Linked DNA regions of Homo sapiens. The protein of the gene in region 2 purifies or fractionates together with the protein of the main gene of each other region. This does not show direct contact. Each region holds a gene or a part of one and is shown on either strand. Other genes may lie near its edges. The genes, in order: FBXL12, CUL1, FBXO7 and CHEK1.

Evidence for each region.
Region 1: the proteins of CUL1 (region 2) and FBXL12 purify together in Homo sapiens (affinity purification with western blotting; 8 studies listed by BioGRID and IntAct, with this or other methods). This does not show direct contact.
Region 3: the proteins of CUL1 (region 2) and FBXO7 purify together in Homo sapiens (affinity purification with mass spectrometry; 15 studies listed by BioGRID and IntAct, with this or other methods). This does not show direct contact.
Region 4: the proteins of CUL1 (region 2) and CHEK1 purify together in Homo sapiens (affinity purification with western blotting; 6 studies listed by BioGRID and IntAct, with this or other methods). This does not show direct contact.

Annotation. Positions count from the first base shown.
Region 1 is NC_000019.10:9,815,666-9,823,842, reverse strand, and holds the start of FBXL12 (F-box/LRR-repeat protein 12), read left to right. Parts: upstream 1-4,763; 5' UTR 4,764-5,029; coding exon 5,030-5,115; intron 5,116-5,225; coding exon 5,226-5,298; exon of another isoform or gene 5,299-8,177. UniProt on the Homo sapiens protein: Substrate-recognition component of the SCF (SKP1-CUL1-F-box protein)-type E3 ubiquitin ligase complex.
Region 2 is NC_000007.14:148,785,432-148,793,006, reverse strand, and holds part of CUL1 (cullin-1), read right to left. Parts: intron 6,457-7,575; coding exon 6,408-6,456; intron 6,019-6,407; coding exon 5,887-6,018; intron 4,451-5,886; coding exon 4,333-4,450; intron 3,258-4,332; coding exon 3,181-3,257; intron 2,698-3,180; coding exon 2,566-2,697; intron 282-2,565; coding exon 189-281; intron 1-188. UniProt on the Homo sapiens protein: Core component of multiple cullin-RING-based SCF (SKP1-CUL1-F-box protein) E3 ubiquitin-protein ligase complexes, which mediate the ubiquitination of proteins involved in cell cycle progression, signal transduction and transcription.
Region 3 is NC_000022.11:32,477,327-32,484,901, reverse strand, and holds part of FBXO7 (F-box only protein 7), read right to left. Parts: intron 5,922-7,575; coding exon 5,627-5,921; intron 1,006-5,626; coding exon 778-1,005; intron 1-777. UniProt on the Homo sapiens protein: Substrate recognition component of a SCF (SKP1-CUL1-F-box protein) E3 ubiquitin-protein ligase complex which mediates the ubiquitination and subsequent proteasomal degradation of target proteins and plays a role in several biological processes such as cell cycle, cell proliferation, or maintenance of chromosome stability.
Region 4 is NC_000011.10:125,641,823-125,649,397, reverse strand, and holds part of CHEK1 (serine/threonine-protein kinase Chk1), read right to left. Parts: intron 5,607-7,575; coding exon 5,498-5,606; intron 5,308-5,497; coding exon 5,130-5,307; intron 4,887-5,129; coding exon 4,755-4,886; intron 1-4,754. UniProt on the Homo sapiens protein: Serine/threonine-protein kinase which is required for checkpoint-mediated cell cycle arrest and activation of DNA repair in response to the presence of DNA damage or unreplicated DNA.

The DNA.
Region 1 (8,177 bases), on a different chromosome or scaffold from region 2:
CACTGGCCCCATCTTGGGATGATTTAGGGCATTCCTTTGTGGGAATTCCCCTGCCTCTGCTTTTGGGGAGACTCTAGCCGGGATGAAACAGATTGGAAGGTCAAAAGTGAGCTGAGGGGGCTGAGGTGCCTAAGGAAGTTTAGAAGCAGCACATCTTTGCATTCTCTTAGAAATCCTGGGTCACAGCCAGGCACGGTGGCTCACACCTATAATCCCAACACTTTGGGAGGCCAAGGTGGGTGGATCACTTGAGGTCAGGAGTTCGAGACCAGCCTGGCCAATTGGGGAAACCCCATCTCTACTAAAAATACAAAAATGTGGCAGGCGTCTGTAATCCTAGCTACGCAGGAGGCTGAGGCAGGAGAATCGCTTGAACCCAGGAGGCAGAGGTCACAGTGAGCTGAGATATGCCACTGCACTCCAGCCTGGGCAACAGAGTGAGACTGTTTGAAAACAAAGAAATGCAGGGTCACACAAGCATTGACTGTAGTTACCACTTCATGGTAGGATTACTGAGAGTCTCATTCTCCCTTCTTTTTTTTTTTTAATTTTTTAATTTTTTAATTTTTTTTTGAGACAGTGTCTTGCTCTGTCACCCAGGCTGGAGTGCAGTGGCACAATTATAGCTCACTGCAGCCTCCAATTCCTGGACTCAAGGGGACTCACCTCCTGGGACTTCAGGCGTGCACCACCACGCCTGGCTGATTTTTTTAATTTTTGGAGAGACAGTCTCACTATGTTGCCCTGGCTGGTCTCAAACTCCTGGCCTCAAGTGATCCTCCCAAAGTGCTGGAATTACAGGCATGAGCGACCACACCCGGCCTCATTTTCCCTCTTCGTGGTGTTTTTCCAGATTTCTGACACAGAACATATGTTACTTTTGTAATCACCGGGGGTGGAAAAGGAAATGTTTGCTTTTTCAAAATGTTCTAATTTCTCAGTGCTTGATTCAAAGATCTGCCAAGCACAGGGTCTTGGTGCTGAGCTGTGGGGCGAGGAGTTGGGAAAGGGATGGGAAGTGCTGCTGAGAGAAGAGGAAAATGGGGCCGGGTGCCATTACATCACACCTGTAATCCCAACACTGGGAGACCAAGGTGGTAGATCACCTGAAGTCAGGAGTTCAAGACCAGCCTGGGCAACATGGCAAAACCCTGTCTCTACTAAAAATACAAAAATTAACCAGGTGTGGTGGCACATACCTGTAGTTTCAGCTACCTGGGAGGCTGAGGCAGGAGAATCACTTGAACTCAGGAGGCAAAGGTTGCAGTGAGCCGAGATCACACCACTACACTCCAGCCTGGGGGACAGAGTCGGACTCTCTCAAAAAAAAAAAAAAGGCTGGGCACAGTGGCTCACACCTGTAATCCCACCACTTTGGGAGGCCGAGGTGGGCGGATCAGCTATCACCTGAGGTCAGGAGTTCGAAACCAGTCTGACCAACATGGTGAAACCCCATCTCTACTAAAAATACAAAATTAGCTGGGCATGGTGGCGCATGCCTTAAATCCCAGCAACTCGGGAGGCTGAGGCAGGAGAATGGCTTGAACCCGGGAGGTGGAGGTTGCAGTGAGCCGAGATCGTGCCACTGCACTCCAGCCTGGGCAACAAGAGCGAAACTCTGTCTCAAAATAATAAAGAAAAGAAAGTAAATTTTAAAAAATAAAGTGGATCCTGGTACAAGGTTTACGAGGTATGTAAGAATGCCTCCATTATTTTAACTGAACTCTTAAGTTCTGAGAAAACCCAGGCAGGGTCTTAAGGACTTTGTTTTACCTTCTAGCCCTTGCTCGAAGGCCCCAGTTTTTCCAGGTCTTTAATATTTAACTTACGTATTCATCAGAGCTACCACAAGGTGTTGGTGAAGGCTCACTGCTGTGGTTGCACATGGAGACCTAGCCTGCTGTAGGAAGATCTGCTGTTCTCACAGCCGCTTTTCCTTGGGGGAGGTGGATACTTCCCAGGAGGTAGAGTTTTGGGTCAAGACCCAAGGAGCAAGCTGGGGAGGCTTCTTCTCCCCCCTTGCTTCTTGGGTTCCTGGCCCAGAGGAAGGAGCTTGTATGTGGGTTTCTTTTGCTCTCACCTGACTACTTCCCTCTCTCCAGCCCTGTATGCTGGTGGTGCAGGAACCCCCTGTAACTGAGTAGGGATGGCAGGGAAGGGACACCTGGGTTCTGCCAAACTTAGAGGCACTCCCCTTCCCCTGCCAGAGTTCACAAGAAGGGAAATAATCTTAGGGGTGGAGGGAGGGGCATAGGAGTTTCCTCCCCCCATTACCTGAGCACCTCAGCAGGGCCGGGGTGCACAAGTCCCACCTGCCACCCCAGAATTCAGTCTGATATAGGAGGGCAACAAGCCAAGAAGACACACGTAATGCAGCCATAAAAAAAATGCAATCAGCTGGGCGTGGTGGCTCACGCCTGTAATCCTAGTACTTTGGGAGGCTGAGGCAGGAAGAACTTGAGCCCAGGAGTTCAAGACCAGCCTGAGCAACATGGCAAAACCCCGGCTCTAGAAAAAAATACAAAAATTAGCCGGGCGCAGTGGCTCACACCTGTAATCCCAGCATTCTGGGAAGCTGAGGCAGGTGGATCACCTGAGGTCAGAAGTTTGAGACCAGCCTGGCCAATATAGTGAAACCTGATCTCTACTAAAAACATAAAAATTAGCCGGACATGGTGGCGGGCGCCTGTAGTCCCAGCTACTCGGGAGGCTGAGGCAGGAGAATCACTTGAACCTGGGAGGCGGAGGTTGCAGTGAGCCGAGATTGTGCCACTGCACTCCAGCCTGGGTGATGCAGCAAGACTTCATCTCAAAAAACAAAACAAAAATTAGCCGGGCGTGTTGGCATGTGCCTACAGTCCCAGCTACTCGGGAGACTGAGGTGGAAGGATCGGATCACTTGAGCCCCAGAGGTTAAGGCTGCAGTGAGCTATAATTTCGCCACTGCACTCCAGACTGGGTGACAGAGAGAGACCCTGTCCCAAATTTAAAAAAAAAAAAAGATAATGAAATCATGTCCTTTGCAGTAACATGATTTTTTTTTTTTTTTGAGATGGAGTCTCGCACCCGTCGCACAGGCTGGAGTGCAGTGGCGCGATCTGGGCTCACTGCAACCTCCACAATCTCTTTCATATTCTTTTTTTTTTTTTTTGAGACGGAGTTTCGCTCTGTCACTCAGGCTGGAGTGTGGTGGCGCGATCTCAGGTCACTGCAATCTCCGCCTCCTGGCTTCAGGAGGCGTGCGTGTGTGTGTGTGTGTGTATATATATATATATATATATATACACACACACACACACACACACACACACACATTTTTTTTTTTGGACAGGAAGTAGAATTTATTGGTGAGTATTAATAGGGGGGGCAGCACATTGGAAGCCCTCATGAGTGCAGGGCCAGCCACTTGTCCAGAGGGCCACGATTGGGGATGTACTTGACCCCACAGCCATCTGGGATGAGCCGCTTCTCAGCCACCATGTCTTCAAATTCATCAGCATTGAACTTGGTGAAGCCCCACTTCTTTGAGATGTAGATCTTCTGGCGGCCAGGAAACTTGAACTTGGCCCTGCGCAAGGCCTCAATCGCATGCTCCTTGTTCTGCAGCTTGGTGCGGATGGACATGATAACTTGGCCAATGTCAACCCTGGCCACAGTGCCCTGGGGCTTTCCAAAGGCACCTCACATGCCTGTTTGGAGCCTACATTGTGGTAGTGCAAGGTTAGAAACATGAACATCCATCGGAAAGGCCTGTCTCCAAGGTCCCTTAGAGCAACCCATACAACCAACAGGCTGCGTACACTACCAAGGAAGCTGCTGTGTGCAGCCATTGCACACACACATTTTTATAGTTTCTTGGTGGACTTGCCAATTCAGAAAATATCTGTAGTATCAATGAAAGTGAAAAATTCAACAGGTCCTTTGGCCACGATATTCCAGTAATACAAATTTATCCTTGTGCATAGACATCAAGAAGCATCATTAAGTAAAAAAATAGAGTTCTCTGACTCTCTACCAAGCCATTCGCTCGGGGCCAGACCCACAGGCCTCGCCCCGCCTCAACCACGCCTTCATGGCGTAGTCTTCTCCCTGTCTCCGTCCCCCGCTCCCCACCTTCCGAGCGTCTCCATCGCTCCCCAGCCACGCCCTTGGCGCCTGGTCCTGCTGCAGCCTGGTTTCCGTCCAGACCACGACCTCTCGGCTAGGTCCTCGTCGTCAACCCCGCCCCCAAGGTCTCGCCCCGCCCCAGCCCCGCCTTCCAGCGGTTGTCCGAGCCTCTACCCGCCCTAGCCACGCCTCCAAGGCGTGGTTCTCGTCTGCAGCCCCACCTAGGCCTCGCCCCGCTCCAGCCGCGCCTTCCGGGCTTGATCCTCGCCCCACCCCAGCCACGCCTTCTGGACTTGGTCCTCGTCTCTAGCCCCGCCCCCTAGCCGCGCCCCAGCCCCGCCTTCTGGACTTGGTTCCGTTCTCTGGCTCCGCCCCTGAGCCTCGCCCAACTCCAGCGACGCCTTCCGGGCTTGGGCCTCGCCTCTAGCCCCGTCCCCGGGTCTCGCCCCTCCCCAGCCACGCCTTCCGGACTTGGTCCCCGTCTCTAGCCCCGCCTCCGATCCTCGCCCCACCCCAGCCACGCCTTCCGGACTTGGTCCTGGTCTCTAGCCCCGCCTCCGATCCTCACCCCACCCCGGCCACGCCTTCCGGACTTGGTCCTCGTCTCTAGCCCCGCCTCCGAGCTTCGCCTCACTCCAGCCCCGCCTTCTGGACTTGGTCTTAGTTCCCAGTCGCGGCCAAATCACGCCTCAGCCACCTCCCGCAAGCCTCTCACTGCCTCAGCCACGCTTTCCAGGCTGGTTTCTGGTCCCCATCCGCGGCTGGTCCGGCCCTGGGACCGAATCACTTCCCAGCGAGAGGAAGGTCAAATTTCTCGACCGGCTACGGGAAGGTCGCGGCCGCCGCCCTGTCAGCCGCCTCGGCGCCCCCAGGACCCCTCGGGTCTCTTTAACCGGAAGCGGAAGTGCGTGTCGGCGGGATCATGGCGACTTTGGTCGAACTGCCGGACTCGGTCCTGCTCGAGATCTTCTCTTACCTCCCGGTACGGGACCGGATCCGCATCTCCAGGTGCGGCCCCGCCTCCGGGGGGAAGGGCAGGGCGGAGGGCGCAGCTGGCACCTGGAGATGCGATGTGGCCCGGGGCTGGGGTCGTTCTAACCGCGCGTCCCCTCCCCCAGGGTCTGTCACCGCTGGAAGAGGCTGGTGGACGACCGGTGGCTGTGGCGACATGTCGACCTGACGCTCTACACGGTACGCGCAGCTGGCCGGGCGGGCCTGGGCCGCGGTCGCGGTGCCCGGACCCCGAAGACCACCTCTCCCACCCTGGGACTGTGTGTCGGGGCCCGGGCTGGGGATTTAGAGCCAGGCGATCCGGGGCCTATCTCGGCATCATCGCTTACCAGCTCCTCTTCGACCTCAGGGCCTCAATTTCCTCATCCCTGCAATGGGGATAAAGGACAGTACCTGCCTCACGGGGCTATTATGGGACTTCACTGAGATCACGCAGGGAAAGGGCTTAGAACAGTCTGGCACATATTTATCATTCGATAAATGCTAATTTATGACTATGTTATCAAGTTTTTGTTTTGTTTTTGAGACAGAGTCTCGCTCTGCTGCTCAGGCTGGAGTGCAGTGGTGCGATTGCAGCCTCGACCTCCCAAGCTCAAGCGATCCTCTCGCATCAGCCTCCTGAGTAGCTGGAACCACGGGCGCTCGCCACTACACCTGCTAATTTTTTATTTTTTGTAGAGACGGAGTCTCACTATGCTGCCCAGGCTGGTCTCGAACTCCTGGGCTCAAGTGATTCTCCCGACTTAGCCTCCCAAAGTGTTCAGATTACAGGCATGAGCCACAGCAACTGGCTCAAAACATTTATAGATATATTTGTTGCCCTTTTTGAAACTGTCTTCATAGATAATTGCTATTATAAAGTGAATTTGCACCCTTCCTTTTACGTTACTTCATATGTGTGTGTCCAAAAACAATTATAGTGTTAGTAATGTATTTCTGAACTTCGGGTAATGCTGTTCTACTATTTAGATAGTGTTCTACTTTTAAACAATTTTACTGTATATATCCATCTGTAACTCCCTTTAATACAGTTGCTTTTGAAGTTCTTTTTTTAAGGACAGAGTCTTGCTATGTTGCCCAGGATGGTCTCGAACTCCTGGACTGAAGCTGTCCCCCAACCTCAGTCTCCCAAAGTGCTGGGATTACAGGTGTGAGCCACAGTGTCTGGCCTGATAATATGAAACTTTTTCTCAGTTGTTGAAACTTAGTTGTTGGTTTTGCGAGGAAAAGTTGATTCGTCCATTGGTTTTGTGTGCATTTAAAATTTTACCAACTTTAACTGCTACCCTTGTGAGTTACCATTCGGTGGCCACTATTTCTAGTCAATTTCTGCTGACCCACACGGGTCTAAATTTGGCAAGGAAGATTTGATTCCTCTGTCAAAAGTAGCCCATAACATTTATGCTCTGCAGTTTATCTTTTTCTAATTTATTTTTTTGAGATGGATCTCACTCTGTCACCCAGGCAGTGGCAAAATCATAACATACTGCAACCTCCATCTCCTGGGCTCAAGCCATCTTCCTGCCTCAGCCGCCTGAGAAGATTCATTAAAACATGTTTCTTTCTCTCTTGGTTCATGATATGGTTTGGCTGTGTCCCCACCCAAATCTCAACTTGAATTCTATCTCCCAGAATTCCCACGTGTTGTGGGAGGGACCCGGGGAAAGTAATTGAATCATGGGGCCAGTCTTTCCCATGCTATTCTTGTGATAGTGAATAAGTCTCACAAGATCTGATGGGTTTATCAGGGGTTTCCTTTTTTGCTTCTTTCTCATTTTCTTTTGCCATCAACATGTTAAGAAGCGCCTTTCACCTCCCGCCATGATTTTGAGGCCTCCCCAGCCATGTGGAACTTAAGTTCAATTAAACCTCTTTTTCTTCCCAGTCTCAGGTATGTCTTTAGCAGCAGTGTGAAAACAGACTAATACTGTAAATTGGTAGCGGTAAGTGGGGCGTTGCTGAAAAGATACCCAAAAATGTAGAAGCATCTTTGGAACTGGGTAACAGTCAGAGGTTGGAACAGTATGGGGGGCTCAAAAGAAGACAGGAAAATGTGGGAAAGTTTGGAACTTCCTAGAGACTTGTTGAGTGACTTTGCCCAAAATGCTGATAGTGGTATGATCAATAAGGTCCAGGCTGAGGTGGTCTCAGATGGAGATGAGAAACTTGTTGGGAACTGGAGTAAAGGTGACTCTTGTTATGTTTTAGCAGAGAGACTGATGGCATTTTGCCCCTGCCCTAGAGATTTGTGGAACTTTGAACTTGAGAAAGATGTTTTAGGGTATCTAGTGGAAGAAATTTCTAAGTGGCAAAGCATTCAAGAGGTGACTTGGGTACTGTTAAAGGTATTCAGTTTTATAGGGGAAGCAGAGCAGAAAAGTTTGGAAAATTTGTAGCCTGACTATGTGATAGAAAAGAAAAACCCATTTTCTAGGGAGAAATTCAAGCCAGATGCAGAAATTTGCATAAGTAGCAAGGAACCTAATTAGGACCATGGGGAAAATGTCTCCAGGCCATGTCAGAGACCTTCACGGCAGCCCCTCCCATCTCAGGCCTGGAAGCCCAGGAGGAAAAAGTGGTTTCCTGGGGGCCCAGGGTCCCTGTGCTATGTTCACCCTGGGACTTGGTGTCCTGTGCCCTAGCTGCTCCAGCTGTAGCTGAAAGGGGCCAACGTATAACTCGGGCTGTGGCTTCAGAGGGTGGAAGCCCCAAGTCTTGGCAGCTTCCACATGGTCTTGAGCCTGCTGGTGCACAGAAGCCAAGAACTGAGGTTCAGGGCCAGGCACAGTGGCTCACGCCTATAATCCCAGCACTTTGGGAGGCCAAGGCAGGCGGATCACTTGAGGTCAGGAGTTCAAGACCAGCCTGGCCAACATGGTGAAACCCCATCTCTACTAAAAATACAACAAATGCGTGGTGGCGCATGCTTGTAATCCCAGCTACTCGGGAGGCTGAGGCAGGAGAATCGCTTGAACCCGGGAGGCAAAGGTTGCAGTGACTCAAGATCGTGCCATTGCATTCCAGCCTGGGTGACAAGAGCGAAACTCCATCTCAAAAAA
Region 2 (7,575 bases):
TGAGTTTTAACATGAAGCTTTTTGTAGTGCGTATTAAAATCCTGGAATAAGGCCATATTCATATTCATGAGGCAAACATCTATTTCAAATTAAAGATGCCCATATCCTCTTCCTTATCTTTCCTAACAATATCCACGAGAACAAGGAAACGGCAAGCTGATAGAACAACGAGCCTGAGATGAGAATACCATTTTAATTTGAGTGCTGTCGGTCAGCTGCTGCACAGTGTAGGCATCTTCCGTGTTGTACTGAAGCAGGATAGCCATCTGGAATGTCGACGCCTTTGCGGCCCCCCATATAAAAGAAAAAGAAGGAAAATTTACATGCATGGAAACACCTCCCAAAATATACAGCCCAAGTTTGAAGAACTTATTTATGAAACAAATTCTTTAAACAAGTACAAAAAAAGCACAGATCTATTTAAAAGGGAATATAAAACGTGGCAATGCCACTACAATGCAACATTTTCCCAAAGTCATTCATTTTCCATGTTTACAAACATTAAAATAATTTGAGGGTTTTTTTTAAAAAACGTATTGTCTATGTGGATACATACTATAGATACGTCCCCACGCATTTATAGAGACAATCACATATACACACACCTGGTATATATGGACATGTTAAGCATCAATCTCCAAATCTGTTTTTGGCACATGAGCTAAGGAATATTATCTTTTGGCACATTATTGATGTAAAACAACACAAATATCAAATTATATTTGGTTTTCTAATCCTAAGTACTTTACTATGAAAGTATGAAAAAAGTAAGTAAAGTATGAAATGGCAAGTGTACTAAATTTCTATTTTTTTTTTTTTTTGAGACAAAGTCTTGCTCTGTCACCCAGGCTGGAGTGCAGTGGCACAATCTCGACTCACTGCAACCTCCGCCTCCCAGGTTCAAGGGATTCTCCTGCCTTGGCCTCCAGAGTAGCTGGGGCTATAGGCGTGCACCACCACACCCAGCTAATTTTTGTATTTTAGTAGAGATGGGGTTTCGCCATGCTGGCCAGGCTGGTCTCGAACTCCTGACCTTGTGATCTGCCTGCCTTGGCCTCCCAAAGTGCTAGGATTACAGGCTGAGCCACTGCACCCGGCCCTAAAGTATCTTCTAAAAGACAGGTAGCACGTGTTGGTTCCTGATTGCTGAGTGTGTGCAAGCGAATGAACACCCCGAGGACGCCTTCCTTCTCTTCTCCCTGTTTTCTTGCATAATCGACAGCAACAAGTAATGACCCATGACTGTCAGTCACTGCTTGCCTCTCGGCAAGACCTTGGTCAATGGAAAGAGAAACAAAAAACGCCACATGCCTGTTTCAGGGCGGCCCACAGACAACACTGCTTCCAGGGCCTTGAACAGAGATACAAGGGAACGAGCGTGTTGCTAATGTTTTCTATTGGGCCCGCTCCGGGCTGCCTTAACACGGCAGACACACCCTAGGCAAAGCCTCCACCGTCAAAAACTGGACACTGAAATTCCAGGTACTGTAGTGGAACACATGGATTCTTCTATGTATATTTGGGGATAAATGAAACAAAATTTCAATTGTATAGTAAGAAACATTCAAGTTGATAAAGACCTCTGGAGCCAGCATAATACTATGCATTTTAACAATTTTAAGTCACAGTAGATTTACGAAAAGTTTAAATTAATGAGCAGCTTGAGTCTGCAGAACAACCCATTCTGGAGTTTCTTAATACTTAAACACAGATTTGCAATTCTTCTTAGAAACTCACTGGTGAAAACTTCTCAGAGACTAAAATATGCCATTACTTGTGAAGACCACTCAGTACAAAAGTGGAAGTAGAAAGAGCTTGGACTTTTTTTTCTTTTTACTTTAAAAAATATCTAGAGATGGGGTCTTGCTATGTTGTCCAGGCTTGTCTCAAACTCCTAGCCTCAAGTGATTCTCTGGTCTCAGCCTCCCAAAGCGTGAGGATTACAAGCGTGAGCCACCACACCAGCCCAAGCCTAGACTTTAAGAGAAAAGACTTTAACTGAAATTTTGGCTCAGCTACATATAAGCTAGGATTCAGAGAAATTCACTTAAATTAACCCAAGCCTCAGTTTTCTCCTCTAAGAAATGGAAATATTCTTAGTTACATAGGTATAAATTAGGTTGTACTCAATATTGTTGTCAGCACTGAGTGTTATTAATGTGAAAGTGCTCTGTGTAAGGTGGAGAGCTGATATAATGAAATGCATGCAACTCCAGCTTTTGAAGTCACTACCTGAACAGCTGATGTGTGTCAGGCAGGAGCGGTGCCAAACACTTACTAAATACATTATTTAATTTTCACATCAATTCCCAACTATAAAGTACTAACACTCCCATTAATGGAGGAGAAAACTGAGGCTCACAATCATTAAATAACTTGCTCCCCAGCCAGAAAGAATTGGAATTTGGTTCATCTGATTCTTACAACTCCATGCTTTAAACCTGCCACTATTTCACCAGAAGCTGAATTCTAGATTCTGCTGCTGAGTCAGCTGATAATGATTTCCATAATTTGCCTTATGTTCATTTAGAATAGAAAAATTTTAAGATAAAAATGTGATCTTACCTGCAAAGTATATCTGTTTTTGAAGCAGTTAGTTACCAATTCTCCTTTAGACAACTGATATAACCACGTCAATTTTCGGCCACTGTGGCGGCTGGCGTAGAAAGCTGTGAATCGCTGATAACTACGTTCCAACTAGATAAAAGGACAGCATTATATGGAATACAGATCTCACCACATCCTACAGGCAGCGTTTCTAAGTAAAGCCCACTGTTCCAAGCTTACAGTACAAAGTCAGTGCTTACATAAAAGTAAAATACAAACGCCAGGTGTCTGCCTCTCTTGTAAAGCACTTTAAGCACTGGAAGGTACAATCTTAAAAAAGGTTTGTACTTCAAGACCAGCAGGTCCATCGAGGTGTTCATTACACAACTAATTAGGTTCTGCTTTACAAGATAAGGAAACATGTCTGTAGAGCTGGGACAGACAGCCCACCTTTAGACATCCAGACCTGCCCCACTGCACAGGGCTCTTCCCTGAGTGTTGCCCCCATGGTTCACCGTGATGCAGCCAGCCAGCAGGAAGGCCATCTGCAGGCCTGTCCCCTTCCACAGTGAAGGCTGCCCTGCCCCACCCTCCACTTAGCACTAATGGGATGGCAGACAAACCCATCCTTACCTCTGACGGCAAGGCAAATGTACAAGACTGCTGGAAGGGCCAGGACCCGGAGCTCAGCACTTGAATGCTGAAATCCACTGTGGGACGGAAGAGAGGGGAGAGTGAACATTCTGGAATACATTAATTAGTTTATAAACTGAAAAATTCAATCATTTCAGATGAATGTGGATTGCTCTTTATTAAAAAGCACATTAAATAAAAATCCTGCTTGAATATAAAATTAAGAATTGAACATTTTATTCAATTAAAATTAGCAAAAAGTGCAAGAGCCAGATACTCTTTTCTTCCAAAGAGTGAGAGTCTTCATTTTGCTTCCACCTCGGAATTCTGCTGTCACACGCCTGCCCTGCTTCCCTTGCTTTCCTTTTCTGTCCTGAATCACTCAGTCCACTCAAGCCACGCCTGTGCTTGCCAGGCCCGGCATCATCACAGCCCCAGACTCATGCAAACTCACAAGCAGGAGAAAACCGCTAACTTCATTATAGTGTATGTTTCACTTATTACTGGGAAACGCCACACATGGTCTATAAATTATAACAGTAATTTCATCTTCGCAGATAGTTAAAAAGCCCACTGGCAAAACTGTCCAGTTTTACAATAGAATTGTCATTCTGATTTGGGAAAAATAAAATTCTCCATTTTTCATTTAAAAAGACAAAGATGATCAAAAGATGATGTAAGCATAAATCCGCCATCCTACTACTATGCAAGGCCCTAAAATACCAGCCCAGCTGCCTCTCCTGGAGAACTGAATCACCTGCACCTGCCTGTACTGATCCCTAATCCCAGTCTGAAGCCACAGGTCTTTAGCTTGACTGTTACCTATGCAGGCCAAGTGAACATTAAAATAAATGCTAGAATGGATCCAAGCTAAGGTTTACAAGACAAAACCACGCCTGTGAGTCCCTCCCCAGATCCCAACAGGTGGTGACCTTGCCCCAGTAGAGCTGACACCACTTCAAGGGTTGTCATCTCCTAATGTCACACGGGAGTCGGGGGAGGAGGGCTGGGCATTTGGGAGGAATCTCCCGCTTCTTAGTTCTTGAATTTCTGACAAAGCCCCTCCCATCTTCACCTAATATTTTGTCATTTCTTCATTTGCTACAGAGAACTCTGCCTGTAAACACAACATAGAGACACACGGATACTCACAGTCTAGGGGTTCTGAGTTTGTCAAGTGCTTTTTGAATTGCTCGTTCAGATCTTTGCTCACGCCAATGTCTTGAAACATGCGCTGAAGTTTAGAGGTGTACTCGAACCCGCAAGCTTGCTGAGAAGAACCCAGATGACTGTCTTATTAATTTGTACAAAAATACAAATGTATACAAGGGAATCTTAGAGAAATCAGAGTATACAATATATACTTAATTATATGGAACTACTAGCAAAGCTAGTAACATTTTGCTATATTTTACAGTACAAATATGCATGGATTAATATTAATACACTGTCAAAAAACCCCACAACTCTATGTTGCACAGTGAAGTGTTCACACACACAATTCATACACAATTTGTGAGCATTTAAGAGCAAGGTGTCCTGACACTGGTAGAATACAATGATGAAATAATCTGTCTCTATCTCTTACCAGAAGCTGAACTGTGTGCCCCCAAAATCCCTATGTTGAAGCCCAAACCTCCAACGTGATGCTGTGTGGAGGTATGCGGTCTTGAGCATGGGGCCTCACAATGGGATTGGTGTGCTTGTAAGAGATGTGCAAGAGCTCTGCACTCTCTCTCTGACACGTGAGGCACTGCAAGAAGGTGGCTGCCTACAAAGCAGGAAGAGGGCCTGCACCAGGAACCGAATCAGCTGGCACCCTGATCTCGGACTTGTGGCCCCCAGAATTGTGAGAAACTATTTCTGTTGTTTAAGCTACCTGGTCTATGGTATTCCGTCATGGCAGCCCACGCTGACAAAGATACCTACATAATTTGGGGCCAAAGTAAAGTATGTCCCAAGTCAGATAAGAGCACTCGACAGCGCCGACACACAGGCACGCAAAGGAGGTGGCAGAGGAAGGGCTGCGTGACAGCAAAGTAACCAAGCCCAGAGCAAACAAAACCTCCACTCAGCTCCAGGCCAGCACAGTGTGGAAGTGTGAATGTGCTGCAAGGCTAAAGGTGTGGGAGGCAGGAGAGGCCCCACAGATGGTGAGCTGAGCCCAGCCAGGCCTGGGTAGGATGGAAGCCCCACAGTGGGGTGGGGAAGGGGTTGGGAAGGCACCGGGGCCCAACGAGAGTAGAGTGATAGTTGTGGGAGGCTTTCAGAAGAGCAGTGGCAGAGCTTCTTGTACAAACCACTGCACAAACTCCTCTGCCTGCCTCATAACCTGGAGAGACTAAGAGCTTTTTTATTTTTTTCTGAGACAGAGTCTCACTCTGTTGCCCAGGCTGGAGTGTAGTGGTGTGATCTCGGCTCACCGCAACCTCTGCCTCCCGGGTTCATGCCATTCTCCTGCCTCAGCCTCCCAAGTAGCTGGGACTACAGGCGCCCACCACCATGCCCGGCTAATGTTTTGTATTTTTAGCAGAGATGGGGTTTCTCCATATTAGCCAGGATGGTCTCGATCTCCTGACCTCGTGATCTGCCCGCCTCGGCCTCCCAAAGTGCTGGGATTACAGGCATGAGCCACCGCGCTCGGCCATAGAGCTGTTTTAATAATGACTCAGAAGCTGGGATTTTTCAGGAAAAGATGAAACTCACCTTTAACTTGGAGATCATGCTGGCTTCGGCATCGTCACTTGCACTGTTCTGGTGGACGAGCCTCTTGGCGAGCATCTTCGCATAGAACTTCTGAAATACGTCTTTGTCTTCTATGTACTTGAAGACAACCATCTGGCAAAGCCACCGAGACAACACACTTAACCAGCACACACACAAGCCAACAGTGCAGAGCTGACTGTCACCGGCCACAAGCCAGGAGCCAAGATGTGCCTTTGGCTTTGGGCAGGTCTGTACGCCAACGTTTATGATGGCAAAATCTCCACTCCAGAGTCTTGAAAGTTTTGTGAGTCCCTTAATTCAGTGAGTTGGACTGACTGAGTATTAATGAGAAAAGTATGAATGCTAAAAGTAGTAACTCAATTTAGGAAGTAAAACCAGAGATTCAAAATAAAATCAATGATTATTACTTTTCACATTTCAGAGGCCATCTACAAATAACATTACAAACAGCTTGTGAAATACACAGCTACTGGAAATGGGTATGCTCATGAAGCACTTACCACTTGATTGAGTGTGTCTTCTAGTTCTGCCTCCTCTGGGTTCTTGGAACTGAAAATTTTAAAAAGATACCATGTTTTAAAACATCAGTACGTTTAAACAAGCACCACTTAGCCAGAATGCAGCTTCAAGCATTCAAAAGATCAGTTCTCATCAGATTAGTGCAGAGGAAGAGGGAAGGTTGACTTTCCTTACCTACAGCAAACTGGCAATCTCATACTGTAACCTCAACACTGAAGAACAGATTATGAAGTAGTCATTTAGAATATCCAAGGTGAAAACCAACAGGAGATATTTATAAAACATTTCCAAAAACATTCTGAAGAAGTTTGCCTTTAAGATAATCCACTTAAACTTCAGTAAAGGAAATTCACTTTACCAATTGCTTTCTAGTCTGCTGTAATTTAACTTTGGAGAAATAAAAAGGCACATAGATTCCCTTTCATGGCCCAGTCATTAAAGATGATGAAGGGGTTTAAATTCCTACTAAACTGCTGCCCTCTGTAGTTGTATATACAAGAGATGATTGTCCTTTAACAACTGATTCATTCTATGAACAAATAATAATTCAAAGGTGAATTAAAGGTAGATGAATTTTTGTACAGGTCTTTTCTACAAGACTGCTTTATAAACAAGACCCCCTAATTCATATAAAACGAATCAGCCACCACAGAAACTCTGAAGAGGTGTCTCCAACTTTAGAAAAGTTGGTTCAGAAAACCCAACCCTATTCTTGGCACTCTTGGGTCAGGGGTGTTCCTCTTCCCTTGGAGCAGTTTAACTTAGTGCCTCCCTGACTCCACTCACCCAACACACGCTCATTAAAGAGGTGCTGTGGAAATGTCTCTGCCATTCTGTCTGCATCAGTGGCCTTAACTAGTATCAGTAGACTTGACGAGGGACATTTATGAAAAGACAAAGGATAAAAAGGACACTAAGGCCAGGTGTGGTGGCTCACACCTGTAATCCCAGCACTTTGGGAGGCTGAGGCGGGTGGATCACTTGAGGTCAGGAGTTCGAGACGAGCCTGGCCAACATGGTGAAACCCTGTCTCTACTAAAAAAAAAAAAAAAAAAAATTAGCCGGGTGTGGTGGCACGCCTGTAGTCCCAGCTGCTCAGGAGGCTAAGGCATGAGAATCACTTAAACTCAGGAGGCAGAGGTTGCAGTG
Region 3 (7,575 bases), on a different chromosome or scaffold from region 2:
TAACCATATTGTATAAGATAATATATTAGAACACTTTTAATCAAAATTTTTGTTCAAATAGGTAAAACTGCATCATGGAAACAGGGATTGATCTCTCTCTTCAAAGACTCACTTCTCTCCTAGCAAAGCCATATGATTATTTAAAACTCCGGCTCAAATATCACTTCCTCCGTAAAGCCTTTTTCAAAGAAAAATTGTTTGCCATTTCCTTTCATCCCCTAGCATTCTATTCATATTTCCATTACACTTCAATTGTATTATTATCTATGTTTACCTGTGTTATTTCTGAGTATCTTTTTATTCATCTCTCTCCTCTATGTATGGACTCCTTGAAGACAAGAAATATCCCAATATTTTTATATCCTAATTTCTAGGTCAGTGCATGGCATGCTGCAGGTGTGCACTGATCACCGAACTACTCTGTATCTTTGTAACTTATAACATGGCTCACAGACCAGCAACATTGGTATTATGCAGGAGTATGAAGAAGTTCACGGTCCATTCTACAGTTACTAAATCAGAATCTGCATTTTAATAAGGTCCCCAGGTATTCCAAAGCGCATTAAAGTTTGAGAAGCAATATTCTAAATGTTCTCCTCCATGAATTCCTGGCATCCTATATATGAGTATGTTTCTCCCAGAACTTCACCAATATAGCACAGTGCTTTATATTTTTGTCTCTCTCTGCCACTCTCAGACTACGGGCAACTTGAGAGCAGGAACCATCCACATGTATGAGCAATCATAAGATGTCTGTGTTTTGCTTGCAGTACTTACCTGAGGTATGTAACCTGACTCCAACATGAGAAGATGTATCAACACTATCAAGGCATCATTGGCATCAGAACAGTCAGCTGATTGATACAAGGTCTCTAATGAATGTGGCACTTGCCCTTCCACCGATTCACTACAGAGCATGGGTTCTGAGGGATAGAAACCTGTGCCCTCTGCCATATGCGCATTATCTTGAATTGACTCAGCTTCAAAATTTTGACTAGGCCCTAACTGAAAAAGGAAAACAAAACAATGAATTAATTAAAGACTTATTTTTACACTATACATTTTTGTATCCTAAAGTGAACTAAGTGCTGAAAGTCAAAGTACATCATTGGGTTCAGAAATGGGAGACATTTTAAGTGAGTCCTTACAAATAAATAAGCCTGCGACCTACTCTTCCATCCTGAATTCCTTACCTCTGTTAATTCTAGCTGGTATGTCAAGAACCTGGAAATCATCCTAGACTCCTCCCTCCCTAACTAAACCTTGTTCCACATCTGATCAGTCTTCAAAGTTCCCTGAAACTAACTCCTAAATATGTCTAAAATTTGCCCCTTCCTGCTCTATTGGCACTTCAAACTCTCATCATTTATTTCCCGACATCCAGCAAGAGCTTCCGTTGCAAGTATCCCTTCTTCAACTTTCTTGTCTTCCAATACACCCCAGTCCCTGCTGCCAGAATTTTCTTGACAATTAAAAATCTGATCATGTACTATGTCGCAGCTTAAAATTCACCAGTACCTCCCCAACATAAACAGCATTTCCCTCAATTGTGCCTTAGATGTTCTTAGGAAAAAAGGTGGTGCACACGGAATAAGTGTGGAAAATACTGCATGCTGCAGCCACCTAACTTCACCCTCCATATTCACAAAATACACTATTCGCATTATATAAGCACTGAGGAGTCTAATAACAATAATAGTGTGTGCCTAACACTTTACCAAAAAACACTATCCTCCGTCCTCAGCAGTCAACATCCCTGTGACACCATCTCATGAAACTAGATTTTCAGAGGACACTGAGAAATGCAGGTCTACAAATGAAGACCAAACTTCTAAATCCCTTAGCATACAAAGTCCTTCATTACCTGATCTCTGACTCATTATCAAGTTCACTTTCTGCCAGTGCCTTCTTACTCATCCCAGTATTTTCCACTTCTTCAAAAGAGGTAACACAGACCACAACTCTGCCTTGCAACGGGCTTGATTACTGCACCTTATCACACTGCACTGTATTGCAATTTTCTGATTACATATCTGCATCCTTCCATGACTGCAAGTTTATAAAAAACCAGACTACATGTCACCCATTTTTGTAACCCCAGTAAAGTACCTAGCACATAGCAGGTATTCAATGTTTGCTGAACAAATGCTGAAGGATAATACCTTACAACTTCATAATGTCTTTATTTTCAAAATGTTTTCTTATTTGCACTTTATAACAATCCTATAAAATAGGCATGGCAGGTATCGCCTTTTTATAGATCCTATAATTATAAATCAGAAAGATTAAATAACATAATCAAGGTTACCAGCTAATAAAAATTTGAAACGAACCCAGATCTCTAAACTTGCAGTTCAGGGCTTTGAGATGTAATACATGGCTTCAAAAAAAACTAAGTTACCTATATTAAGTTTGCTCAGAAAGCTTGTTTCCTAGGCATATGCCCAACTCTTAATGCAAAGCATACGTTTCGTCTTTTTAGGGTTTGTTTAAAGAAGGGGCAAAGGAAATTAAAATTACACAGTATATGTAAAAGGTTGGAGAAATGGAGGGGAGCCGGAGGTGACAGCTGTTCTTCCAAAATCTCTGAGGACCTAAGCCCTAGGGCTTATGGAAAAGATCCAAAGTCACCTGTTAAAACCTAAAGGCCAATGACAAGTCACATTACCCAAAAAGGAGGTATGGCACAAAAATATTTCCATATTTCCTAAGAAAACAGAAACAACTACATTAAAAACCACTTAACATCAAGCTAAACTATGAAACATAGGTTTTGCTTCTTTACCACTATGTCTAACTTTTGGCCATTTACTACTTATTGGCAGTTGTGTGGGACAGAATATATGAGGAAAAATGAAAAAGGGTACCCTAGGCTGAGTACATGAGAGGGAGATATCAAAATCCCCTGCTGGGCTTGTCAAGCCTTACTACTACTCCATAAGAACCACTGACATTCTCTGAGCTATTCTGATATGAATATTTATCAAATTCTTCACATGTGTAAAAATGAAAAAAAAAAGGTGAGCACCACACCTCTCTAAACAGATCATTTTGCCATATGTCATTTACAAAAGACTAAAACAAGTGACTAAGATGCATGAGAGCTAATATTAGGTTCTGATACCTGCTACCCGTTTCTCATTAAAGACTCAAGAGGCACTCGATGAATTCCCAAATATGATGAAATAAGAAAACTGATATTTAATTACAAGAGTAAATTTACCTCCTATGGTTTCAAGTTTTACGCATCTATTTTCCTTTTCTAATGCTCCATTCTACATTACAGAGTGTGATGTACTTGAAAGCATTATTTATGAGATCTTGAGCTCAGTTTCCATACTCTAAAGATTTTCCTGTCACCCTTTACAAGTCTTGGAATACAAAACAATATGCAAAATCTTAGAACTGAAATTAGTAACTTCAGGCAACATTAATTTCTCAAAATTTTCCAAAAGGAAACTAGCAAACTATCACAAATACTGTGAAAAGCTTCATCTTACTAGACAACTTTAAAAGTACACAGAAGTAAAAGTAATGGCCCCTACTAAGTCATCCCAGAACAAGTCTATCAGCAAAAAAGACTCAGAAATATAATTTAAATATACAGCGAAATATTCTTACTCATTCCCCAGTTTACCTCTATGAGGCAGAAACACACAGATAAAACAATAACTTTAAAAATAAATTAAAATCCACATATCTGGACATAATTTTCACAATTTACCAATCTATTAAAAAGTATTTTTTAATATGTCTATACTTAATGCCATGACAAGTTACCATGAATACTTATACTCAAAAATGTTTAAGGCCAGCAATTAAATTGAGGTGATAAGCATACATACAAAAACCAATTAACAAGAAGGCATGTGTATTGGTATTAAAAAAATAAAGGTGATCATTTGCACCATTCAAAAAATTAAAAGGGCGGATAAAGGCCAGGCACGGTGGCTCACATCTGTAATCCCATTACTTTGGGTGGCCAAGGTGGGCAGGTCACTTGAGGTCAGGAGTTCAAGACCAGCCTGAGCAACATGGTGAAACCCCATCTCTACCAAAAATACAAAAATTAGCCAGGCGTGGTGGTGTCTGTGGTCCCAACTACTCGGGAGGCTGAGGTGGGAGAATCGCTTGACCCCGGAAGGGTAGGGTTGCAGTGAGCTGAGATTGTGCCACTGCACTCCAGCCTGGGTGAGGGAGTGGGATCCTGTCACCAAAAAAAAAAAAGGTGGGAAAAATGAGGAGGCATGTACAAGGCAATAAAGATAATCAGATAATCAATACAAAGAAATTAAAGAAAACTATTGGGCTATGGTTGGCAAGGGCTTAGGAAGATGGGTAGAAATATAGACTAGAGAGGGAGGAAAGGTAACAGGTTCCAGTCTGGGTGAACAGCAAGAGCAAAGTCACAAAAGTAGTCACCAGGTTGTGTGTGTGCACATGCATGCAAGCAGGTGAATGTGCTGGTTGGTGGGGGCGGGGGAAAATGATGGGTCTGTTCTGATTGGAGATGACAGTTTAAAGGAAGGAAGAACAGAAACTAGCCCTAAAAAAGTTGAGTGGAGTAACTTTTCAGAAAGCCTTGAGCACTAGGTACAGGAGGACAGACACCATTTTCCTCTTCTGTAAAATGACAGGGTTGAACTAGAGATATATTGTCTTTTTCAGCTCAAAAATTATGAGCACAAGTTTATGAGATAGAGTTATGAAAGACAGCAAGGGAACAATAGCATCAGAACCATGTAGGAAGAAGGCAAATCCAGAAAACAGACTGAGGAATAAAGCCATGGAACCCGAAATGGAAAAGAAGAACTGACAAAGCTTATTAATGGGCTAGATTTAAGGAGTCAAAAATCACAGAAAACCAGCAGTGCCACTGACAAAGAAGGGAACTGAGCACACATATTTCCAAATTTATGTTCAACATCTAAAGTCTGCAATGACAATTTAAAATCCAGGTATAAATATCCTGCAAGTCATCTGGAAATAATTAGACCACATCTATAGCCTTAATGAGCGGACCAGATCAGAGAAGCAAGGCTAGGAATCATGAGCTTAGGAACAATAATAGAAGTCAAGGAATAACTGATCTGAAGGAGAGTATGTGAACAAAACAGACAGACACTAGGTACTTTGGGATGCCAGCCCCATATTGGTACAGGCATTTGGCAGTTAAAAAAAATATATTCTATAAAAATATAATCTGCAGCCAGGCGCAGTGGCTCATGCCTGTAATCCCAGCACTTTGGGAGGCCGAGGAGGGCAGATCACGAGGTCAAGAGATCGAGACCATCCTGACCAACATGCTGAAACCCCGTCTCTACTAAAAATACAAAAATTAGCTGGGCGTGGTGGTGTGCACCTCTAGTCCCAGCTACTCGGGAGGCTGAGGCAGGAGAATCGCTTGAACTGGGAGGCAGAGGTTGCAGTGAGCAGAGATTGCGCCACTGCACTCCAGCCTGGTGACAGAGTGAGACTCTGTCTCAAAAAAAAAAAAAAAGAAAAAAATATATATAAAATGTGCAATCTATCGATGATAATTATCCTGACTGGAACAGAATTCAACTGAGGTGTTCAATATGACTTATCACCTACTCTATTTGATATATTGGTGTTTAATACCCACCATACTGTCGTCATTCCAAACACCAGACTGGGCTGCCTGTCCTTGGAATGAATCACTTGGTTGTTCATCCTGCATGCTAGTCTGATTGGAGCTGGTGGCCAAAGAGGGTTGCTCATTATTCTGGAGTGAAGAATGCTCTGAATCTGTGGATGAAGGTATATTAGGCGCTGGAATGTCATCTTGAAGAATCAAACATATCAAGTCCCCAGAAACAATCCCATATGAAGCCAAGGTCTCTTCATCTCCAGTGAGGGGATCCTTGTAGTTCAATGTAATTGTAAATCGGGTATTAGAACTGCCAAGAAAGACAGATAAGCATAGTAAGAACTACCTACTTCTAATACCTTCAATAGCACATCTGAAGCATACATAAGTACACAGTATGACCCTAGAAGAACTAAGTGATGAAGAGACAAGGTCTCACTATGTTGTCCAGGCTGGTCTCAAGCTCCTGGCCTCAAGCAATCCTCCTGCCTCAGCCTCCTGGGTTGCTGGGATTACAGGTATAAGCCACCATGTCCAGCTACATTTTTGTTTTTGTTTTCGTTTGTTTTTAGAGACAGAGTCTCACTCTGTTGCCCAGGCTGGAGTGAAGTGGCACAATCACAGCTCATGGCAGCCTCAAATTCCTGGGCTCAAGCAATCCTCTCACCTCAGCCTCCAGAGGAGCTAGGACTATAGGCACGCATTACCCTATCAAGCTTATAGTTTTGAGAAAATTATCAAAAGTATTTATCAATGAATGCCTAATCTATAGATTTCTAATGGCTAAAACTCTCCACCTGGGGGACGGGATACAGTAATCCTCTATCACTAATCCATGCTTTCCTCAATTCTAAGATGCACAAATTTTTTTTGACATCTTTGAAATTAAGATACTTCCTAAAATCAATGACATATCAATTGACAGCATTTTCCCCTGCTGTTACATAAAACAATATGTCTTACAAGTGACAGCAACTAAGATTCAGTGAAATACCTTTAAAATACAAATTAGATCACATCATTCCTTCACTTAAAATCTTCCAATAGCTTCTATTTGGAATCCTTAACCTAACTTCCAAAGCTCAACGTCTGACCTCTTCCCATTTCTCCTACTGCATCCTGTGCCATCCATCCTCTCTCACTGTTCTCTATTCACATGAGCTTTCCATCCGTTCCAAAAAGCAGATCAACTTCATTGCAGCCTTCGGGCCTCTCCGTTTGTTCTTCCAGATCTTCAAATGACTGACTCCTCTTCATCATTCCAGTCTCAGCCCAAATGTCACCTCTTCAGAGATGCCTTTCATTCAGACTCCAGCGCTCTCTATTCTGTTATGTTCTACTTGAAAACATCGTATTTACTTGTCTATGATCTGTCTACCCTACCTCTGCCACTACAACTTAAGTTTCATAAGATCAGCGATCTTGTCTGAACAGTTCAAACCATATCTTCAACACTGGCAAATAAAGTACTTGTGAAATAAATGCAACCACCAAACACTAGTTGGGAAGATCAAGAGATGAGCGTGAAATCAAGGATGTCTATTCAATATCCTTACAGGACAGTTTACTTATAATGGTTCCGAAAAACCAGATCCATATATTCATAATCACAAAAAGTTAGAGGAGTATTATGTATATGACTGAGTATAAATTCATCTCTCTTACTGATGATGACAAGCTAAATTCACCCTTCTACTGATCATCAGTTATGATGCCTTTTAGTGGAACATAGCGCAAACCCAAAAGCCCACGTTAAACAAGCTCAGAATTCAAATAAGCCCGGAAGCAACAAACTCCCATTCTTTCTGCATCACAGATTATTTGACATTAGAAGAATAAAATGTTTTTCATCACACAGTGGTGAGGAACAATAACAAAACATTATAAAACATTTTTAAAAACATTTACACTCAGCAATGCTAATTTCATTACTTTTTTGAGAGGTTAACAAAAGATGAAGTCCT
Region 4 (7,575 bases), on a different chromosome or scaffold from region 2:
GAAAAAAAAAATAGACCATGGAAACAATAACCAAAAGAGAGCTGGTAGCTGGGTATGGTGGTACATGCCTGCAGTCCCACCTACTTGGGAGGCCAAGGCAGGAGGGTCACTTGAGCCCAGGAATTTGAGGCTGCATTGCACTATGATCGTGCCTTTAAGTAGCCACTACAGTCTAGCCTAGGCAACATAGTGAGACTCCATCTAAAAAAAGGAAAATACACAAGATAGCTGGTGAGCTGATGTGGATATACTAACATTAGACAAAATAAACAGACTGATGAAAACTGTCAATTTAGCTGGGCATGGTGGTGCACACCTGTAGTACCCACTACTCAGGAGGATCACTTGAGCCCAGAAGGTCAAGGCCAGCCTGGTAAACACAGAGACTGCATCTCTACAAAAACATTTTTAAAAAGTTAGCTGGGTATGATAGTGTACACCTGTAGTCCCAGCTACTTAGGAGGCTGAGATGAGAGGATCACTTGGGCACAGGAGGTCAAGCTATATTAATAAAGGGAAAAAAAATCCACATGATTATCTCAATAGACGGAGAAAACATTTGACAAAATCCAATACTCTTTCACCATAAAAACAAAAACCCCACAGCTAACATCATACTTAATGCTGAAAGACTCGAAACTTAACCCTAAGATCAAGAACAAGACAAAGACTCTATTTCTGTTCAACATAATGTTGGAAGTCCTAGCCAGGACAACTAAACAAAAAGAATTAAAAGGCATCTGGGTTAAAAAAAAAAAAAAAAGTAAAACAATTTCCTGTATCTCTATTGATAAACAATGTAATTTTTTTTTTTTTGAGACGGAGTCTTGATCTGTCGCCCAGGCTGGAGTGCAGTGGCGTCATCTCGGCTCACTGCAACCTCCGCCTCCCAGGTTCAAGTGATTCTCCGGCCTCAGCCTCCCGAGTAGCTGGGATTACCGGTGCCCGCAACCACGCCCAGCTAATTTTTTGTATTTTTAGTAGAGACGGGGTTTCACTATGTGGGCCAGGCAGGTCTCAAACGCTTGACCTCATGATCCACCCGCAACGGCCTCCCAAAGTGCTGGGATTACAGGCGTGAGCCACCACGCCCTGCCAAATAATGTAATCTTAATATATTAAAAAACCTAAAGAATTTGTCAAAAAAACTACTGGAGTTAATGAATTCAGCAAATTTTCAGGATACAAGATCAATATACAAAATTCATTTGCATATAGCAATGAACAATTTGAAAATAAAATTTTAAAAAATTCCATTTACATCAGCATCAGGATAAAAAAAAAAAGAATAAACAGGATTACATTTAACCTAGGAAGTGCAAGACTTGAACACTGAAAACTACAAAATATTCTTGAAAGAAATTAAAGACCCTAAAAAAATGGGAAAAAAAAGGCCCCATGTTATTGGATTAGAAGAGTTACTATTAGAGGTTTAGCATCCTTAATCTCAAATCTGAAATCCAAAATGTTCCAAACTCCAAAACTTTTCAGGTGCTGACATCATGTGACAAACTGAAAATTTCATACCTGACAGGTTTGCTTTCTGATAGTTCAATGTACAAACTTTGTTTCATGCACAAAATTATTTAAAACATTGTATAAAATTACCTTCAGGCTATCTGTATCAGGTATATATGAAGCATAAATAAAATTATTCATGTTTCAACTTGAGTCCCATCTGTAAGTTATCTCAATATGCATATGCAAATATTCCAAAATCCAAACAAATGTAAAATCCACAAAACTTTTGGTCCCAAGCACCTTGAATAAAGAATACTCAATATATACTAAAATGGAAATACTCCCCAATGTAATCTCTTTTAAAATTCCAAATTTTTTTCTTGCAGAAATAAGATAATCCTAAAAGACAGAAAAACAAGGGGCCACAAATAACCAAAATACCTTGAAAAAAAGAACAAACTTGGACAACTCATATTTTCTAATGTCAAAATTCACTATAAAGCTACAGTAATCAACATAGTGTGGTAACGGCATAGCACAGACATATAGATCCATGAAATAAAAGAATTGAGTCCACAGGGGAAGAAAAAAAAAAGGAAAAAAAAAGAATTGAGATTCCAGAAATAAACCCATACATCTATGACCTATTTATTTTCAACAAAGGTGCCAAGACCATCTAATAGTAAAACATATCTTCAACAAATGGTGCTGGAATCTGAATATTCACATACAAACATTTGAATTTGCACCCTACATCATACTATATACAAATATTAACTCAAAATGGACAAAGACCTAAATATAAGAGCTAAACTTTAAGACTGTAGTCCCCGCTACTTAGGAGGCTGGGACTCCTAAAAGAAAGCATAAAGTATAAATCTTTACAATCTTACATCAGGCAACAGTTTCTTAAATTTGACACTAAAAGCATAGGCAACAAAAGAGAAATTATAGATCCACTGGAATTCATCAAAATCTAAAACTTGAGTACATCAAACGACACTAACAAGAAAACAAAAGAATGGGGGAATTTTCTCCCACAGAATGGGATAAAATATTTGCAAATCAGGTACCTGACAAGGTTCTAGTGTCCAGAATGTAAAAGAACTCTAACAACTCAACAATAAAAACAAGCCAGTTAAAGCATGGACAAAATATCCGGATACTGTTATAAAGAAATGGCCAATAAGCATATAAGAATATGCTCAAGATCATTAGTCTTTAGAGAGATGAAAATCAAAAGCAAAATGAGATAAGACTTCATACACACTAGGATGGCCATAGCAAAAAGGGGAGGCAGTAAGTGTTGGCAAGGTTGTAGAGAAATTGGAACCCTCTTACATTACTGATGGGAACGTAAAATGGTACAGGTGCTTTGGAAAAATCATTTCACAGTTTCTCAAAAAGTTAAATGAAGAGTTACCATATGCTCCAACAATTCTATTCCTCCATATATATCTAAGAAATTGAAAACATATGGTCACACAAAAACTGGTACAAGATTGTTCACAGCAGTATTATTCATAATGATGAAAAAGTAGAAACAACCCAAATGTCCATGAGTGGATGAATGGATAAACGAAATGTAATACATACACACAACAGAATATTATTCAGCCATAAAAAGGAATAAAGTACTGATAGATGCTATGAACCTTGAAAACGTGCTAAATGAAAGCAGACAGACCCAAAGGACTACATGTTATATGATTCCATTTATATAAAATGTCCAAAAAGGCAATCCCTAAAGACAGAAAGTAGATTCGAGGTTGTCTGGGAATGGAGCAAGAAAGGAATAAAGAGTGATTCTAGGTGGTACAGAGGTGTTTTGTTTTTTTTTCCCCGTGGTGATGCAATGTTCTGGAATTAGGGGCGATGGTTGCACAACCTTGTGAATATACTAAAAAGCACTGCATTTTACATTTTAAAATGGTTAAAGTGATGATTCTTATGTTATGCAAATTTTATCTCTGAGTCTACCTGAAAGAAAGTGAATCACCTATGTGAGTGAGAAGACTATCAGGCTGACCTCAGATTTCTACACAGTAACAGTTCCCCCAATTTTTAATTTTGAAAACTCGAATCTACAGAAAAACTGAAAAAAGAGTATAATAAATAACCATATACTCTTCATTGGCCTTATCTACCAGATATGTGTGTGTTTATTGGCCTTTATGTAGTTGTTTGCCCTTTATTTTTTTAAATTTTAAGCTGAATGAAAATATCACTTCACTTCAACTTTGCTTTGACACTTGTTCTCCTTTGAACAAGGGCATTCTCCTACAAACCACAGTATTATCACACCCAAGAAATCTGACGCTGATACAAAAACATTACCTAATTAATATACAGTCCATATTCAAATTTCCCCAATTGTTCCAATAATGTCCGTTATAGTTTTTTTCAAATACATGATCTAGTGAAAGATCATGCATTGCACTTGCACTTAGTTATCAGGCCTCTTTAGTCTCCTTGAGTAAAAAACAGCTACCCTATTTGTCTTTCATTGACATTAACATTTTTTTTGAAAAGCCTTAAAGACAGTTTAGAATACCAATGTTATAACTATGCTCTAATAATATAAACAATAAAAATTGACGGGTGCAATCAAGGGAGATGGGAGAAAGTGTGGGATTGCTAATGTATTCGTCTTTCATAGTAGGCAGTCAACTGTTATTGTCTACAGTTTAAGTATACATAGTTTTTACAAAGATAATGATTCCAGCTCCCTACTATTTTTAATAACAATAAAAAGGTCTTTTAAGAAATATTATTTCTTAGGCCAGGCACAGTGGCTAAAAATTAAAAATTAAAAAATAAAACAAAATAAAAAAAAGTATTATTTCTTAAAGTAAAGAACATTTTACTTAAATAGTTTCTTTTTCAAATTAACTAATTACTTTGTATTTTTATGTTTGTTTGGTTTTCTTTGAGACAGTCTCACTCTGTTGGCCACGCAGGAGTGCACTGGCAGGATCTCGGCTCACTGCAACTTCCGTCTTCCAGGTTCAAGCAATTCTCGTGCCTCAGCCTCCCGAGAAGCTGGGATTACAGCCATGCACCACCAGGCCGGCTAATTTTTGTGCTTTTAGTAGAGACAGGGTCTTACCATGTTGGCCAGGCTGGTCTCGAACCCCTGACCTCAGGTGATCCGCCCACCCCAGCCTCCCAAAAAGCTGGGATTACAGGTGTGAGCCACAGCCTATATTTAAAAAATATACTAATGATAGCTTTTACTCAAATATTTAAATTCTTCTTCAGGAAAAGGTATAATGAAAATCAATGAAACACACCTGATTCATACAACTTTTCTTCCATTGATAGCCCAACTTCTCACAAGTCTCTTTCAGGCATTGATAAGATTTGTCTGCATCCAATTTGGTAAAGAATCGTGTCATTCTTTTGACCAACCGCTGCCAGGGGTTCTACATGTCAAACAGAAGACAAATGAATAAATCCATTAGGACTAAAGACAGTAATATCATAGCTATTTAGTCTGACTTAAAATTATTTTGCATGAAGGCCTCCCTCCTCTCTTTCTTCCTTGACCAAAAAAGAATACATGTGATTTAAAAGTTATATATCTAAGATTTACACATTAAAAAAGGACTTTAAGACAATAAAAAATAAAGAGCTGCCATTACTTTTAAAAAATTAAATTCCCTCACCTGTGAGGATCCTGGGGTGCCAAGTAACTGACTATTCAAAAGCATATGATCAGGACATGTGGGCTGGGAAAAGCTGATCCCTTGTACCAATTTATCAATGTATGAGGGGCTGGTATCCCATAAGGAAAGACCTGTGCGGGGTTCTGGCTGAGAACTGGAGTACTTCACATTTTCTTCACTGAGGCATTAAGACAGAAAGAAACATACATTTAATAAAATAAAATCTATCAGGCCTTTCTTATATCACACACAAGTTCTCATGCTTACAGTATTATGTTAATGTCGATTATTATGAAAAAACACATACATGTATTATTCTTCATGGGGAATACTACAATCAAAAACTACTCAATCTTTATCAGTCTTACCTAGAAGCACTGTTTACTGGAGAGAAGTCCAAATTGGATTGAATGTGCTTAGAAAATCCACTGGGAGACTCTGACACACCACCTGAAGTGACTCGGGGCCTTTTTGCCCCTAAAAAAGAAAACAAATACAAATGCTTTCAAGTCTTCTATGCAAGTATGTTTTTAAATTAACCCAACTGGCAACTTGAAGAAGTAAAACTATGTCTAAATCTATTTATTTAACACAAAATTTTTGTAAGATATAAAACAAAGTCTTCCTATATGATTTTATAAAAAATATGGCCAAGTTATAAAATTACTAAAACTCATTTGTCAAATTAGGTATTTTACAATACCTAAGTATGATCTGTAGACATGTTCAAAGTGTGGAGTATGCTCAGACCACAATCTTTTTTTTTTTCTTTTTTTGAGACGGAGTCTCGCTCTGTCACCCAGGCTGGAGTGCAGTGGCGCGATCTTGGCTCACTACAAGCTCTGTCTCCAGGGTTCACGCCATTCTCCTGCCTCAGCCCCCTGAGTAGCTGGGACTACAGGCACCCGCCACCACGCCCAGCTAATTTTTTTTTTTTTTTTTTTTGTATTTTTAGGAGAGATGGGGTTTCACCATGTTAGCCAGGATGGTGTTGATCTCCTGACCTCGTGATCCACCCGCCTCGGCCTCCCAAAGTGCTGGGATTACAGGCGTGAGCCACTGCGCCCGGCCCAGGCCACAGTCTTAATGGCATCTTTTATGGGTAACAGAACAATGTTCTATGAAGACAACAGACCTGGCTAAAGGACTAGAACTTTTTAAAATAAAAAATAATTTATGATAATAGCAATAAACATTATGAATCTGCTATAGCCAACATTCTTTGATTCCTTGGAAAAGCTTTATAAAGAAGAATATTATATGGAAAATGACGCCACTGTAAATTTATGGTTACAATCCCTAGCTAAACCTCAATATTGCCAGATAATATTTGTTTCTCTAGTTTCCTTTCCTTTTCTCCACAAGGATCATTTCAAAACTACACTTTTCTGTAATTCCCAAGACTACCATCCAGTACCTATACTACCACCTCCCATTTCAGAGAAAAAATAAAGCCATTAGACAGAAACTACATCAACTTATCCCTACCAAAGCTAAGTTATTTGTATTATTATACATCTTTTCATCCCTTCCATTCTCCCATCAAATGTTCATCTCTCTACTTGTGCTCTGGAGCCCATACCCTTCTACCTCCTTAGGGATCTTGATCCTCTGTTATTTATTTCCTTTCTCTTAGACTGTCAGCCTCTTCCTCTCTACAGGATCCGTACCCAAACCACTTAAACATGCTTAAGTTTGTTTCTTTTTAAACATGCTCAAGTTTTTTTTTAAACCTGCTTTTTATTTATTAATCCATTCATTCAGATATTTTATTAGGTCTACTCTGTGCCAGGCATTATTCTAGGTATCAGGTATTCAGCAGTGAGCAAAATAGAAAAAAAACTCTTGACCTTTTAAATCCTACATTCTACTGAGGAGAGACAAAATAACATAAAATAAATACAAATACAGTTAAAAATCAGTAAGCTAAATGGTGGTAAGTACACTGAAGGAAAATAAAATGAAGAAACGTGTTGGATTGCGTATGTCCACAAGAGAGTAAAAATTTTAAAAATTTAAGAAATGTGTTAGAGGGAAGAGGATACCATTTTAAATAGCATGGCCAGGAAAGGCTTATTGGAAAGATGACACTGAAGTCAATATCCAAAGAAAGTAAGAGAATAAGACATGCAAATAAGTCCCATGGGAAAAAGCATTTTCAGACATAGGAACAGTCACTACAAAAACAGTGAGGTAGAAGTGTGCCTAGAGCACTTGGAGAACAATAAGAAGAACAACAATATGACCAAGGGGGAGCAAAGCAGAACTGAGGTTGGAGAGGTAATGTAAGGAACAAAATTGTGTAAGAACTCACAGGTCATGAACTGATTTTAGCTTACACTACACGTGAGAACTAAAGCATTGGAGGATTTGGGTAGAATAGTGATATATTCTAATTCACTTTTAAATCAGAACATTTTGGAAAGATATCATGGTAATTTGGAAT